Linked DNA regions of Homo sapiens: region 1 is linked to region 2. The links come from fine-mapping of genetic effects on gene expression. A gene starts in region 2. The other region holds a variant in brackets. All regions are shown on one strand. Distances are from middle to middle.

What was found. PIP is the estimated chance that this variant, and not a neighbour inherited with it, causes the effect. A credible set is the group of variants that fine-mapping cannot tell apart.
Region 1: its variant is the best candidate, but not a certain one, in a credible set for the expression of MACO1 in lung (TOPMed, PIP 0.54).

What each region holds. Positions count from the first base shown.
Region 1 is chr1:25,912,765-25,917,155 of GRCh38, reverse strand. No RefSeq gene overlaps it. Among named protein-coding and RNA genes, the nearest start is that of MIR3917, 8.5 kb to the right of the region's middle. The variant C/A (reference allele first, on the strand shown) is at 1,906.
Region 2 is chr1:25,429,124-25,433,492 of GRCh38, reverse strand. MACO1 (macoilin 1) reads right to left here and starts at 2,596. Exons shown (of 11, transcript NM_018202.6): 1 at 2,315-2,596. The coding sequence starts at 2,394. It also overlaps a transcript of RHCE not described here. RefSeq lists silencers at 2,081-2,740, 3,131-3,570.

The DNA of each region.
Region 1 (4,391 bases), 480 kb before region 2:
ATCTGACCTTAAGCCCTAAGTGTTGTTTGGTGGCCAAAAAGACACTGGCCAAATGATTCAACACTCACAGAGTGTCTGTGGCACTTCAGGGATGGCAAGACAGAATCACATAGGATCCTGCCCTGAAGGAGTTTACTCACTAGTGAGAGGGACAGACATGTATATGGATAGCTGCAACAGCAGCATAGTGGTGAGGGAGAGAGAGGTTAGTCAAGACCTTGAAGGTGGAGAGAATTTCAATATAGACAGAAGCCAAGGGACTCAAGGCCTTATGAGGGCTGGTACTGTAGACTGAATGTTGTGTTCTCTCCCACATTCATATGTTGAAGCCTATGGCCCACTGTAATGGTATTTGGAGGTAGAGCCTTTGGGAGGTAATTAGGTCATGAGGCTAGAGCCCTCATGAATGGGATTAGTGCCCGTATAAAAAGAGGAGACACGGAATCTCTTTGTGCTCTCAGCCATCTCAACAAGAAGATGTCTTTCTGCAAACCAGGAAAAGAGCCCTCACCAGCCATCAGATCTGCTGGCACCTTGAACTTGGACTTCCCAGCCTCCAGGACTGTGAGTTATAAATGTTTGTTGGTTAAGCCACCCAGTCAATGTTGTTCTGTTACAACAGCCTGAACTAAGGCAGTTGGTGTCAGCAAAACAATGGGACATATAGGCATGTAACCTTTCAGAGAGCTGCCAACAGTCCAATAAAGCTGAAACTTGGTGGGGGAGTGGAAGGAGTGAGAGTGAATATAGAGGTTTCAGAGACACAGGACATAAGATGGGCAAGGAGGACAAAAGTCTCTTCTATTTTTTAAATATAATTGTTGGGGCAAGGCACAGCGGCTCACGCCTGTAATCCCAGCACTTTGGGAGGCCGAGGCCAGCAGATCACCTGAGGTCAGGAGTTTGAGACCAGCCTGTTCAACATGGTGAGACCCCGTTTCTACTAAAAATACAAAAAATTAGCTGGGCGTAATGGCGTGCACCTGTGATCCCAGCTACTTCGGAGGCTGAGGCAGGAGAATGGCTTGAACCTGGGAGGCAGAAGTTGCAGTGAGCCGAGATCATGCCATTGCACTCTAGCTTGGGCAACAAGAGCAAAACTCTGCCTCAGAAAGAAAAAATATATATATAATTTTTGTCATTAATACAAGTAATACAAGTTCATTTTAAGAAGTTTGGAAAATCCAGAATAGTATAAAGAAGGAAAGCAAACTCAATTGTTATTTTCTTTCCAGAACTATTATTTTGGTGCATTTTCTTCAATGTATTTTGTTCCTAGTCGAACTCATATTGTGCAATTGGGTAGGCTTTGTTTGTTCTATTTAGCGCAATATAATGAGCCTTTCCCCATCTCATTAAAAAAGGACCTTAAAGCAGGAAGAGAGGTCATTTAGTCCACCTCTCTTCTAATGCAAGAATCCCGATTCAACATTTCTGATGTTTGACTTTGTCGGCACATGTCCCATAACAAGAATCTCATTCATGAATAGGTCCCAGTCCATTCTATTGTTGGCTAAGTCCAGTGATCACAGAGCTCTTCCGTTCATCTTAGTTGTGCTTCTCTATAACGATCCATCCGAGAAGACAGATTTTCTTTTTTTTTTTTTAGACAGAGTCTTGCTCTGTCACCCAGGCTGGAGTGCAGTGGCGTGATCTCGGCTCACTGCAAGCTCTGCCTCCCGGGTTCATGCCATTCTCCTGCCTCAGCCTCCTGAGTAGCTGGGACTATGGGCGCCCGCCCCCACACCTGGCTAATTTTTTGTATTTTTAGTAGAGATGGGGTTTCACCGTGTTAGCCAGGATGGTCTCGATCTCCTGACCTCGTGATCCGCCCGCCTCGGCCTCCCAAAGTGCTGAGATTACAGGCGTGAGCCACTGCCACCGGCCCAAGAAGACAGATTTTCA[C/A]ATGCATCAAGAATTAAAGAATCTCAGGGAAAAGGAGGGGGAGGTCCTTGAGGAAGACTGACCTGGAGGTCCTCATGGAGATAAAGACCTGCAATGACTTCACGGAGGGTTATAGCTGCTGTGCCAGGAATCCTTGGCCTCTAAGCCAAGAAAGGGAGTCTTTTTTTTTTTTTTTTTAGGTTTCAGAAATTTTTGCTTTTCTCATATCATGTGTCCCAAAGTTGAATTTGTCGAATGTTTTCAAGCAGAAAATGGCATGATCAGAGCTGTCCTTGATAGCTAATACCTTAGCTGTCACTTACTGAGGGTTTATTGTGTATAGACACAATGCTAGGGACTTTACATATATTATTTTATTTAGTCCTGGCAGCTCTATGAGGTAGGGGTGTTCTTCCCATTTCACAGATGATGGAACACAGGCCCCAAAAGGGGAAGTCACGTGCCCACACTCATACAAATAGTAACTGAGCAGTACCTGCTGCATCATATAAAGGACAGGATTCAAATTCCCCCTGACATGACACGAACTAGCCATGTGACATTGGGCAAATGTCTAGAGTTCTCTGGTCTTTTCTCCCCTATTTGTAAAATAACAGGGGTAGCCTGATAAAACAGTTTAGAGTGATAGCTGAAAGCATAGAGTCAGGGCCAGACTACAAAAGCTCTGCCGCTTCTGTGTGGCCTAGTTGAACAAGTGATCTAAGCTTGCTGCAAACCTGCTGCTAATGTTTGCCAGACCCAGGGCAGGAGTATAGAAGGGAAGCCCACATACCATATGGCTAAGTATTTAAGAGTTATAAATCAAGCTAACAAACTATTTTTTAAAAATATATGTTCTATCCTCCTACCTTGACAAATATACCTCCATAACAACCTAGAAAGCCAGGTTTTGAGTTGAGAATTCTTGGATTCCCTGGAGTTCCATGTGAGAATGTAGCAGAGCCAGCTCCCTTCTCTTCTCATTCCTGTGTGCATTCCCCAGCCCACATGCTCAGCCTCTGTTCACACCCCTTGCAAACAGCCAGCTCTAAGCACAGGGGTGCACTCACTGGCAGGAAGTTTGCCCTTGGGAGGATGGAACCAGGGAAAGGGTTGGCACAGATGCTGAAAATGGACTTGGGCCATTTTGGCAGGGAATTCTGGAGTCCTGGGTATTGAGAGGGTGGTCTAGAAGGGGTGCACAGGCTCCAGGCGGGCATATCTCTTTGGACCCAGGGAACTGTGAGGAGGGACACAGCTGGAGGAGGATTAGGGTGCAGCCCTCTAAAGAGTAGGGCCTAGGACAAGGACCCCATCTGACATATCTAAAAAAGGGGCCGGGTACGGTGGCTTATGCCTGTAATCCCAGCACTTTGGGAGGCCGAGGCAGGTGGATCACCTAAGGTCAGGAGTTCGAGACCAGCCTGACCAACATAGAGAAACCAACATGGAGAAACGTCTCTATTAAAAATACAAAATTAGCCGGGCATGGTGGTGCATGCCTGTAATCCCAGCTACTCGGGAGGCTGAGGCAGGAGAATCGCTTGAACCCGGAAGGTGGAGGTTGCGGTGAGCCGAGATTGCGCCATTGCACTCCAGCCTGACCAACAAGAGCGAAACTCTGTCTAAAACAAAAACAAAAACAAAAACAAAAACAAACTTTAAAAAGCTACTATCTTTCCATGCCTCAGTTTCCTTTATTTTATTATTATTTTTCCCTCTAAAAAAGGCATTCTGAATCAGTTCCTTTATTTAGAATGACCAACTCATCTGGGCTTGCCTGGAACTTTCCCTGTTTTAGCACTAAAAGTCTCAAGTCCTGGAAAAACCCTTCAGTCCCTGGTAAACCAGGAGAGTTGGTCACCTTCATTGCCTCATCTTTGCAATTAAGCTAATAATACCTCATAAGACTGTCATGAGAATTAAGTGAGTTAGTACATGTGGAGTGTTTAGACCAGTGGCTGCTGTGTGGTAAGCATTCTATGTGAGCTATTAACATTTAAAAGATTCCAGTCTAGGCCAGGTGTGCCTGGACTGGCTCATGCCTGTAACCCCACCACCTTGGGAGGCCAAGGCAGGAGGATCACTTAAGACCAGGAGTTCAAGACCAGCCTGGGCAAAGTGGTGAGACCCCATCTCTAAAAAATAATTTAAAATTAGCCAGGCATGGTGACACATACCTGTTGTCCCAGCTACTCAGAAGGCTGAGGCAGGAGGATCACTTGAGCCTGAGAGGTTGAAGCTGCAGTGAGCCATGTTCACACCACTGCACTCCAACCAGGGTGACAAAGTGAGAACCTGTCTCAAAACAACAAGAACAACAAAAAAGATAAAATGCTGCCAATAATTATAACATGCTATTTATTGACTATGAGGACCAACTGATTTCAAAGATAAAAAATGTGGGGGAAAAAATACATCTTAGAATTAATTAAATAAATAAGATCTGTGCCAGGCACATTGGGAGGGGAGTGAGATACAGCAATGAGAAAGACCCTGCCTTCAGA
Region 2 (4,369 bases):
TAATGAATCCAAAATTGGCCACATGTTGTTGAGAAACAAAATGGGCAATAGATGGTGTGAAAAACAACTTAGCATAGACTTAAATTTGATGATCACCAGAAATTTGATATTCATGAATCCTCAAGCATTCTAGTTTATAACCAGTCCACTCATCCTGTTTGCTTTAGAAATAACAGGAAATTTTTCTAAATCTCTTTAAAAACAGAATTGGGCAAAAAAAAAAAAATCTTGTTCTTCAGTCCAATACTCCATAATATAAACCAAGAAACAGATAAGTGAGTTGAAACGCTCATTTGATATATGATACTCCAACCAGGAAAGACAGTTAGAAATACATTTAGGTCTTTTATTAACATTTAACTTAAAGAATGCAAAACAGAGAAGCATAAGAAGATTTAAGGCTAATGCACTGTCGGTTTTTAAAATTTTGCAGATGAACCTCTGAATAACTTGCAAAGAGTATTTACAATTAACCTTTAGGGTAAGAAAATTCAAATTTCAAAAGCCATCAGTAAGATGATAAATCTTCATTAAACGATGAATTCACTTCTTCACATCGATTCACACTGAGTAGCTATTATGGCGCAGGTTGTAAACTGGGTCTATTTGTTCAAGTACAGAGAAATGGAAATACAGCAGAAAACACGTAAACAATATGGGACTCTCAATCTTCTTGCTATAAATGGAGGTACATCATCTTATGTTACTGTAAATAGCAGCTATTCAAATGCCACAGTTGTGCTAAGTCTACCAACTCGGTTTAATATCCCTTTCCTATTTTTATGTTACCATTAATGTTAAGTTGGTCAAATATTTTTCAATAGCCAAAGGGGAAAAACTTTCTTTAATTCAAGAATGTATAGTGTATGTAACGTGAATTGAAGAGACCTTTCCTCCATCTATGTGTAGAAAAAATTGTTTGCTTTCACAGTTCAAGTTAAAATGGTCAAGTTCGATTCATCCAGCATAGATTAGAGTCTGTTTTACTCACTGCTCTATCTTCACTGATTAGAAATGTTCCTGGCACATAGTATATATAACTGATGAATGAATGAATTACTCCTATGCTCTATGGCTCATTTTATAAGAATATACCCAAGAAATTTTTACTTTGATTCCTTAATGCTTTTAAACTTGAAGAAAATCCCCAGTGTTTACATCAGTCAGCTGCTTGTGGAAAGCAATCATTCCACATCTGTAAACAAGAGCATGTGCAAGGTGTACAGTTATGTTAAGACAACTTGGGTGTCATCAGCTACCTCACATATTTCTTGAAATCCCACAGCTAGAGAAGCTAATTGTAAAACACCATGAGGACTCAATTAAGCCTACATCCACATGCTGAGAATTCTTCTTTGTAAACTAATTACTTCTCCACCGAAATCTGTATCAAGGCAAATACCATTTACAAGTAACATTCTGAGAAGAACCAGAAAATAACAGTCGTACACAAATCGACTTGGGGAAGCTATGATAGTAAGTTGCCCCATGAACCTGTTGTCTTTCTCTACCGGTGGACTGAATTCAATTTCTATTTAAAGGGACACTGCTTTTCTTGCGGATGAAAAAAAAAAAAAAGAGTTTGGAGAAAATCCCTTTTTAAAAACGTTCAAAGCAAGCTATCTGCTTGGAATTGTCAAAACAATATTTGCTGAAAAACTGGTCATCAGACCCTTCCGAATCTGGAGCAGGGCCACAGGGCATGATTTGGGGGTATCAGCTTCAGCCCTGGGTGCCAAGTTTGAGATCCCATATGGGAAGCAGAAGGTGAAAGAAGTGACAGCATGGCCCCAGGCCAGTATGCTGGCAGCTTGGGGGAACGAGGGGCCACAGTGGGCTCTCAACTTTGTCAGCCTCCCCCACCCCCCCGCGCTGTGGTCCACGCGCCTCCTGGCTCCGGCCGGCAAGCCCCCAGGCCACCGGGGGGCTCGGGGGCCAGCGGCGGCCAGTCAGAGGTCCCGGAAGCGGCCCTCCCGGCCCAGCGGCATGGCCGGGATGCTGAGGAACGCCGGGCTGGTTGGGGGCTCTCCGCCCCTCCCCCCGGCGGGCCCGGCGCTTCCAACGGCGGCGCGGCGGCTCCCTCAGCCAGCGCCCGCCGCGCCCTGCCCGCCCGGCCGGGCCGACCCTCGCCACGCCCCGCGCACCCGGGGCGGACCCCGGCGGGCGGGCCAGCGGCTCCGGGGCCAGCGCTCCTTAGGAGAGCCCCCGGCGCGGGCGTGCGGCCTACTCGGGGTTACATAACGGGGCCAGGCCCCTCGGAGCTGGAGGGGGACCGCAGGGCCCGCGCCCGCGGAGTGGGGGTGCAGCCGCTCACCTGCCGTAAATGCCCTCGGTGATCCGGTTCCGCTTTAGGGGGCGGCGGAGCTTACTGCAGTCGGCGTTCCGCCGCTTCATCCTCCCGCTGGGGGGCCGGGTGCCCGCGCCGCCGCCGCCGTCTCTCACCTCAGCTGCCGCCGCCGCTGGCCCGCCCCGCGTCGGGCCTGGACTCTACCCCTGAGGCCGGTCACACAGACATGGAGCCAGCACCCGGGGGGAGGGGGTAGCACGGGGAGGGGGGGCTCGGAGCCTCCTCCGCCTTCGGAAACAAAGAAATGACAATTCCGGGGCCCGCCCGCCCAGCACCAGCCAGCCGCCTGCCCCGCCTCCTCGGCTCCGACGGACGGCCCGGGAGGCCAATAGAAGCCACCGGTAAACCGCTGTCGGCCAATCCCAGGGCCCGCTGAGGCAAAACTGACTCTAGAACCCGCCCCTTTGAAGGACGGAAGAATGCGCCAATCATTATAGTGTCTGGGTCCCCGGCTGAGCCTATCAGAAAAGATTTAAATAGAGGCTTATAAATAGGCCCTATAAATATAACATCCTATATTACGCCTTGTTGCGAAGGTATGCTTTATTATTATTGGGTTGCGTTTCATTGTATTGTAATCCCTACTAGAGCATACCGTACGGCATGGCATTGTAGGCTCTCGTCTAGCAATGTATGAAATCGGAAGGCCCGGGTTTGCGGCATGTGCGGTGTCTGCGCTGACGTGCGCTTCAGCCAGTCGCGTCATTATGTAAGGGAGCATCCCAGGAACAGCGCCGGGGACCCTTCTGCGGATGCTGGAGAGCTCGGCCAGGCCGACCGCGTCAGCGCGCACCGGGGGTACGAATGACAAAGCAAACCCCACACGCACACAGACACACACCCTGCCAGCTTCCCGCGACGTGGTGACAGCGCGCCGGCCAATCGGAGGTGGCGGCCCCGCCCCGGGTTACGCCACGGGGCGGAGCCGTGGGGGCGCGCGACGTAGCGCAGAGATGCCCGGGGCGTGTGCGGCGGTGCGGCCCGGGCTCCACGTCCACAGGCTGGGCAGCGCTGTGGGCCCCGCGGGCGCCGAGTCCGCAGGACCCGCGAGGGCACTACCGCGAAGCATCGGCCTCCGGGCCGGGCCGGGCCGGACCGGGAGCCTGCTCGGCGGGTCCGGGCTCCTGCAAGGCGGGGACGCGGGGCCGGCGACCCTTCACGCTTCGTACTCATTGAGCGCCGATTTTATGCCAGGCACCGTGCTGGGTAATTTGCGTGTATTTGCTCATTTACTCCTTATAACTCCCCTGCCACGTACGTATGGCAAAGTAACACTTAGAAAAGTCCGCATGGTGTTTTTTTTTAAGAGAAATAAAAAGAATGTTTATCATTAGAGAAAACTGGGGAAAATGTAGGAAAGTGGCCGAAAAGGAAAAAACACCAATGAGTCTCATCACATTAACACAAATACAGTTGACATTTTATTGTATTTGCTTGTTTTCCAATTTTCCCCTATGGATGATAATGTTACTATTGCTATTAAATAGAATAGTGGTCATACTAGAATAGTAGTCATACTAGAATAGTAGTCATACTGTTTTTAACATAAGCATTTTTACATGTTTTAATGCAGCTTTTATAAATATTTCTGAAAATATTGCAGAATGTCCTATCCAGTAGCTTTATCAGTGTAATCCCTCAACGACAATGGGGCAGTTAGTCTTCCAGTGCATTTTTAAAACTTCCCAGGAAGGGCTGGGCGCGGTGGCTCACGCCTGTAATCCCAGCACTTTGGGAGGCCGAGGCGGGTAGATCACGAGGTCAGGAGATCGGAGACCATCCTGGATAACATGGTGAAACCCCATCTCTACTAAAAATACAAAAAATTAGCTGGGCATGGTGGCGGGCACCTGTAGTCCCAGCTACTCGAGAGGCTGAGGCAGGAGAGCGAGACTTTGTCTCAAAAAAAAAAAAAAAAAAAAAACTTCCCAGGAAGTAGATGCCATTTTGTTTTGTCCTGGGTTTCACAGAACTCTCTCTGGCCTGTAATCACCCCTCCCTTAATCAACATCTACCCCAGGG